Homo sapiens: one gene and its partner. The protein of the gene in region 2 interacts with the protein of the main gene of each other region in a biochemical or structural test. Each region holds a gene or a part of one and is shown on either strand. Other genes may lie near its edges.

The links.
Region 1: the proteins of PHLDB2 (region 2) and FLNC form a complex in vitro, tested with the Homo sapiens proteins (one study listed by BioGRID).

The regions. Positions count from the first base shown.
Region 1 is NC_000007.14:128,850,589-128,854,405, reverse strand, and holds part of FLNC (filamin-C), read right to left. Parts: intron 3,604-3,817; coding exon 3,463-3,603; intron 3,175-3,462; coding exon 3,046-3,174; intron 3,006-3,045; exon of another isoform or gene 2,952-3,005; coding exon 2,778-2,951; intron 1,816-2,777; coding exon 1,654-1,815; intron 1,579-1,653; coding exon 1,375-1,578; intron 1,122-1,374; exon of another isoform or gene 1,009-1,121; intron 938-1,008; coding exon 785-937; intron 692-784; coding exon 569-691; intron 433-568; coding exon 190-432; intron 1-189.
Region 2 is NC_000003.12:111,862,183-111,865,999, forward strand, and holds part of PHLDB2 (pleckstrin homology-like domain family B member 2), read left to right. Parts: intron 1-3,817. UniProt on the Homo sapiens protein: Seems to be involved in the assembly of the postsynaptic apparatus. May play a role in acetyl-choline receptor (AChR) aggregation in the postsynaptic membrane.

The DNA of each region.
Region 1 (3,817 bases), on a different chromosome or scaffold from region 2:
GTTTGGGGGATGTCAGGGCAACACTGGGATTCCTCCTAGCCCTGGCCCTTCCCTCCCCCATCAGTTAAACCTCCTCCTCTGCTCAGACCTGCCCTGGCCTTCGGGGCCAGTCTGCCAGCATCAAGCCTGGTCCGCAGCACCCTCCCATCCCGCCGTGAGGACCCGGCCGGCCCAGTGTGCGGTGCTCACCCTCCTGCTGCCGGGTGATGCTGCCGAAGGATCCCAGGCGCTCCCGGCCCAGGAAGTCCCCAAACACAGCAGGGAAGGGGTCCCCGCCGACCTGGGTGGACTCCTCCACCCGCACCTCGCGCTTTGTCTCCCCGCCCCGCGTCTTGCTGATCTCCGTGCGCTCCGTGCGGGTGTAGGTGTGGCTGCTGCGTGTGAAGGTGCGTGTCAGGCGCTCCTGGGCAGACACCATCTGGAACCAGTTTCCTGTGTGGTCAAGGGAGCCAGGGTGAGGGAGGGAAGCGAGGGGTGAGGAAGCAGGGTGGAGGCCCGACAGGTGGGCTCTGGCCCGGGCCAGCCCTCTCCCACCACCCGCCCCACCCAGGGTCCTCCAGGCTTCTACCTGGGATCTTGAGGTTGAGGTCACAGGTGCTGCCGATGGTGGCGATGGAAGGTGCCTGTCTCCGCCGGGTGATGCTCTCCTTCATGCGGCCCTCGCCGGTCACCTTCACAGTGAAGGGGCTTCCTGAAGTGGGGACAAAGGGTGGGTCAGGAACCTCAGAGCCCCAGCCTCCTGGCCTCCCTGTCTCTCGCCACCGACCTCTGCCCAGAGCCTTACCAGGCACGTGCTTGTCAGCAAACTTGATGTTGATGATGTAGGTGCCGGGCTCGGTGGGGCAGTAGGTGACTTTGCATGTCCCGTCCTCCATGTCCTCACAGTTGATGTCCACCTTGCTTGGGCCTTCAATACTCAGCCCCAAGCCCCCATAACCTGGGGGAAAGCAAGGAACACATCTCCCTCAGTCCTAGGCTGGCCAAGCCACAATGCTTTCCTCTCCCCAGACTGCAGGCTCCACCCAGAATGGGCACCGATGTGTGTAGTGACCACTAACAAAAATGGCTCAGTGGGAGGAGCGGGGGCACCACGGGACAGGCGGTCTGGAAAATTCCCTAAGGTAAGCCTCTTGGATTCCAGTGAGCAAGGGAGGGACAGAAACTCAGGACAGCTGAGCTTTCTCTTAAAAGGGAGAGAACTGATGCGGGGCCATTCACTTTCCCGCAAGGGGCCCCAGAATGCGAATCCTGACGCAGACTGGTCAGGAAGTTTCAGGGAGGAGAGAGTGCGGCCAAGGGGGTGCTGGGCAGGACGAGGACAAGTGCCTGTGGGAGGCACCCGCTGGAATGGGGGCTCTCTGGGGCAGGAGGTACCTGCATTGCGAGTGTCCACGATGAACTCTGCCACCTGGAATGTGTGTCCCTCGGAAAGCCCCTTGCCCCAGACCCGCACCTTGCTGGCGTCCCCGATCTCAGATGGCCCCACCAGGATCTTGAAGGGGCTGTTGGTGACATGCTTGCCACTCTTGCGCACGCTCACCACGTGCTCCCCGACCTCCTTGGGGGTGAAGGAGATCCCTGTGGAAAGTGGGTGTTAGGCAGAGCATCCTGTGGGCCCCCACCCCTGAGGTCCCCGTGAGGCCCCACGCTCACCAATGTGCCGGTTGGGCAGGCGCTTCAGCAGGCAGGGCTCCTCGTTGCCCGAGGGGGCACGGATGCTGGCGGTCAGCTGGCTCAGATCACTCTCGGTGATCTTCAGTGACACGTCCGTGGAGGTGCCCACATTCAGCTGTGAGGTCCTCATGGAGTCATCACCTGGTGGGGGAGTTGGGGCATCAGGCTGCTATGACTCCAGGCAGGCCCTGCCCTCACAGGGCTCAGGAACCCTCCTGAGCAGCCCCCCCTGGACTCAACAGACACGGGGGGCCACTCCCAGGTGCACGGAGGCCCAAGGCCTGGAAAGTGCAGTCTGCACTCACATGTGAGCTGCCAGAGACTAAGAGGGGCCTGTACCCCAATTCCACTGTGGCTGCCTCAGTCCTTGTGGGCTAAATCCCTAAAGGAAACCTCCTGCATTTTAACCCTGAGTCACATGATGTTGTGATAACAAAACACTAGACTGGACCGCCCAGACCCCTTCCTCGCTGTGTGGCTGTAATCATGTTGCTTGGCCTCTCTGGGACAGGGGTTCCTTATCTATCAAAAGGATTATCCGTGCCCTAACTTCTTAAGAGTGACTTCATGCTGGGCGTGGTGGCTCACACCTGTAATCCCAGCACTTTGGGAGGCCGAGGCAGGTGGATCACAAGGTCAGGAGATCGAGACCATCCTGGCTAACACGGTGAAACCCTGTCTCTACTAAAAATACAAAAAATAGCCAGGCATGGTGGCGGGCGCCTGGAGTCCCAGCTACTTGGGAGGCTGAGGCAGAAGAATGGCATGAACCCGGGAGGCGGAGGTTGCAGTGAGCCGAGATCGTGCCACTGTACTCCAGCCTGGGTGACAGAGCAAGACTCCCTCTCAAAAACAAAAACAAAACAAATGACTTCAAAGACTAAATGAGGCAATGTGTTTTCAGGCACAAGGAGTGGCTGACTGCTTCTTAGCTGCCGTGGAGAACAGAGTGTTTTTACATTTATCAAAATATGACCCCTCACACCTTGAAGGGCCTCTGCCCTAATGTCACGAGTGACTTGAACGGGCTGGGCTTGCACATGAGTGCACTGTATGCGGTGTGTGTGCCTCATGGGCTGTACATGCCCATACACCCGCCTCACCTGTGATCTTGGCTGTGAAGGGGCTCCCCGGGATGTGCTTGTCATCGAAGCGCACGATGATGCTGTAGTCTCCAGGCGCAGTCGGCAGATAGGACACGGTGCAGGTGCCATCCTTGTTGTCCTTACAGGTGATCTCTGCCTTGGATGGGCCCTCCACGGCCAGTGACAGACCCCCTGTAGGTGGAGGTGTGGCCAAGATCAGAGGTCCTGCCCTCACCCCTGCCCCTGGTGAGTCTCCACCCCAGCCTGCGACCTGCAGCTCCCTCACCTTCTCCAGCATCTTTGGTGACAATAGTGAAGGTGGCTGGCTTGTTGACCATGCCATGGCTCAGGCCTGGCCCATAGGCACTGACATGGCGGCTGTTGATGGCATCCACATAGAACTGTAAGGGGCTCCCTGGGGATACAGAGAAAAAGGGGGCTGGGTCAGCATCAGGGATTATCTGAGCCCACCTTGGCCCCAGCACCTTCCAGCAGCCTCCCTGCCAACCCCCTCCGTCTGTGCCGTAGGGACCCAGCTGGTGGAGGTCTGCTTCCCACCAGGGTATAAGCCTCCCTGGGGCCTCGCCTGGTGTCTGCACACAGCGGGTGCTCAATAAATATTTGTTGAAAGAGGGAAGGCAGGACTGAAGCTACGGCCTGCTCCTCTCACCCAAGCCCCAGCCCAGCCCAGCCCCTAACTCACCAGGGATGTGGTTGCCGTCATACTTGATCCCCATCTGGTGCAGGCCTTTCTCAGTGGGTGCATACCTCACCGTGATGGTGCCGTCCTTGTTGTCGGTGATGTTGGGCCGTGCCGTCTTCCCCGAGGGCATCCGCACCTCTCCTGCAGGGCAGACACAGTTACGTGGAGACCCTGGTTTCCCCCACTGCAACCTCCCTGCTGTCCCAGGCCTGGTCCTGAGTGCTTCTGCTGCCACCCGAGAAGCCAGGCATCAAGAGACAGCCTGTGGCAGTGGCCTGAGCCCTGAACTGGGGACAGATGGCTTGCACCTGAGTTCTGGCTCTGCCCAACTTGCTGTGTGACCCTGGGTAGAGCT
Region 2 (3,817 bases):
TTATATCCTGATTTTCAACCCTTAGCAGGGAGGCAGTGCTATGGTGCTGTGGATGGCTTAGAGTGACAGTGGCTTTGTACATTTTCTAGGTGGAGTACCTGTGCCTTATGAATCTATCTGTAAAGTCTTGGTGTACCAATTGTTGATTGTGTAAATGTCACTCTTTTGAAACAAAAACACCTAAGTGATGTGCTTTATCTTAAAGTCCTGACATACATTAGAGCTGTGGTTTTCACTGGGAGAGGGGTTTTGGCCCCCAGAGGATACTGGCAACGTATTTTTGGTTGTAGCAACTGACAGGAGGAGAGTGCTACTGCCATATAGTGGGTAGAGGCCTGGGATGCGGTTAAGCACCCTGCCATGCACGGGACACAAAAACAATTATGCAGCCCCAAACCCTGCACTACAGTATTGCCTGGGGGAGTAGGTTAACAAGATTAGGCATCTTAATCTGATTTGGATCCTCAAGAAACTTGTTTAACTGTGTTAAACAAGAGACCCTTATCATAGAAGCCGTTTTGTATGCAGCAGATTCTTTTGTCCTTGCCATTTAGAGTCTTAATATACCATAGAGGTCGAGGAACTTGTGTTCATTGACAACTTTGAGATGGATTAAAGTCATGGGATTTGGGAGCATTAGAGCACAAGGGAGCCTCAGAGATCACTTAATTTCTACCCCTTCTTTTTATAGATGTAAAAAACTGAGACACTCAGAGCTTTAGGACTCATAAGGTCTCAAGCGAGCTAAGGGCGGGCAGACAAAGTTCTAGGTACAACCCAGGAGTTAAAAATTTTAAAATAGAGATTCAGGCAAATGGGAACAAAAAACAAAACACACTGGACCTGACCTTGTGTAAAAGTTTCAAAGCACCATTCCCTGTGAGAAAATAAATAAATGCTTCGATGGGGGAGGGGTGGCATTAGCCATAGAGACTGTGGGGCACGTGCCTGGGTGCCCCAGTCCCAGAAAGGGGTAATTCCATTATATGACCTGTGACACTCCACTTCTGATGCCTGTACTGTCCTTTCCATGGCAAAGTAGGCAACAGATGGTTCCACAGACATAGCAGATGTTGCTTTTGAATCCAGGTACAAAACAGAACATTTGAGATTTTCTGTTCCTCCCTGCCTTATCGGTTAAGAGTAGAGTACATGAATGGATAGGGCTGGCTTGGACAGAAGGGAGAATTACAGAGGCCTCCTGAGTATGGAAGAAAAAAAGACACCTGGCATATATGGAAATGAGCAAGTGTTGGGGAAATTGTGGGAGAAATTCATAAGCTGATGAGGGGATATCTAATATAAATTCAATTGCATAGAACTAGGATTAAGAATCAGAAGACAATTCAAGCTTAGCTATTCTTTCAGCATGTAGAACAAAATAACTATGGGGGTAAAAGGAACCTTAGAAATCCTCTTATCTGAATCTTTTCCCTCCAACCAACTAACTGGGTTAGATAGCGGCAGAATCTGCAAGCCTCCTGTTCTATTGTACTTTCTCCTGCACCCACAGTCTCTACCATTCCATGTGTTTACCTAATGGGAAAGAAAATGATAGTAAAGAAAGTTATTGTTAATTACTTGGGAGAGTTTAAAAAGCATGGTATTTGTGAATGGCTGTTTATAGAAAGGAGTTACCTTAATGAGTTTATGATTATCAGAAAAGTTGTACACCATAGCCTGATTAATTACAAACATGTATACTCTCCTGTTTACATTGCTATGGTTAGCCATTAGGCTCATGATTATAGATTCTAGTTCTGGGTGCCAAGCTGTCCTCCTGTGGTAGTTATTTTATCTAATACTCAAATCTGACAGGTTCTGGCCATATAGGAAAGTTTTTAGTATGCCTTTGGTGGGAGACATAAAACCTCTGAAAAGTGTTAAGATAGTTTCTTATCATTTTGACAACTAGCCAAAGGGTGCACCTCAAAGCCAAGTACATAGTGATATATTTAGAAATGACTCAAGAGTGATAGCCCTTTTAAGGGATCTGCCCCCCCGCAGGTACTATGCAAAAGGGGTGTAGCAGTCTTTTCATTATCATCTTTCATCTGGCCATTCTTGTTACTGTTTTTCAGATGATGGGAGAGGAGACAGGAGTAGTTTTTAAAAAAATAACTGTTGGCTAGAAATATTTATTGGGATTTGATTAAAGTAACTTGTCTTTTAAAAATAAATGAAACCAAAATTGTTAGCTCAGATTTTCAAATCCCTTCAAAGTAAACATTTAGCAAGGCAGAACTTCTCTCTATGTTCATCCAGGAATTTGAACCTTCTGGGAGTTAATTTGCTTACAGTTGTTTTCATGACGCTTAAGGATGTTTCTTAGACATTGCAGAAAAGGAGCTTTGTGCTGTATCTGCTTTAAAGGCAAGATAGTTGTCTATAGCAGCTAGTGGTCAATAAGAGAAACCCAAGTGTAAAAATCATTTTACTGTTGTGTGGGAAACTAGAGGTTGTAGGTAATTGCTATACAAAGAAACAGATTAATAAGATATAGAGTAACAGGGTTAGTCAAAAAGTTTTTGAGAGGATTTTTACAGGAGATACTTGTTTAGTGTGTTAGGTTGATTTTATTAGATGAAGTGCTTTTCCTTACTTTACAAAGTAAAAGGAAAGAAAATATTGTGTATGCCACTGTTTATCGATGGCCTTAAGCCAGGTCAGCTTTTTCTGAGACTTGCTGCTAATTCAGTGGGAATTGGTGTTGATCATCTTAGAATGTTTTGTTTGCACATTGCATGTGACTGCCCTAGATGGCAGTATGTTCATGGAACTAGCCTATGAAATAGCAAAAAAGTTAAAGATTACAAGAGTTTTCCAAGATTTCTTTCTTGACCACCCTACTGCTAAAACAAGGAAAGATAAAGGCAAAAGAAACCCAGCTCCTACATTCTTTTGACCAGTGCAGACCCAGTGTGAATAGTGCCGCACAGCCAAGAGATATTCAGAGGGGATTGAGAAGTGATGTCTGGCTGCCTCACTGCTTACGTCATTGCAGAAGTAGCTTTTCAAAAACAGCTTAAGATTTATTAAGGAAACTGCAAGCCATGGGAATGCAGACAAAACCTTTCTTATACATCATGCTCAATCAAATACCCATATTATATTACATTACCATAACTCTGACCAGGCCTTTTTCCCACTATGTTATGCTAAAACAATTTACCATGCCTTTGGAATGTCATGGGCAACAGTCCGGTGAAATCTTTTCCCAATTAGGTAGCTGCCACCTTATCACTAAAACTATTTCTGTTCTGTGGTCATTTCCATTTCCTGCATTATGTAATGAGCACTCCTGTGTTATTTAACCAGTATCTGTGGGAGTCCAGAAAGTTGGAGCAGAAAGAACATGTAGTTCACTCTCACCATGTTGAGTATGGAGAAACTCCTGTTGAAACAAAATGAAGACAGGCGAATTGACGTGCTCCAGATCTTAGTTCTGTTAGCAGAACCAGAACTAAGATGGATCTTCTGACTTGCTTCCCTGGCAGCCTATCCAGTGTTCTTTCTACTAGATTGGCCACTGTAATAAAAATAACATCCTAACGTAACCATTTCCTTTATTAGATCTTTTGGCCAGAGTTATTAAAAAAAAAGCATTGATTAAAATTAAATTAAACTTAGTCAATTGTTTATCTTGACTTGTTCAAGTTATTTCCCTTCTTTCAAGCAGTAAGTGGTCAAAAGGTAGATAGCATGGAAGGGAAAAATTAAGTGTTTTATAATACTCATTCTGCACAATCAGCTGCTAAGTAATGAAGATATGATATTATCATAATTATTATTTTTACTTTACAATATTTTAGAAACC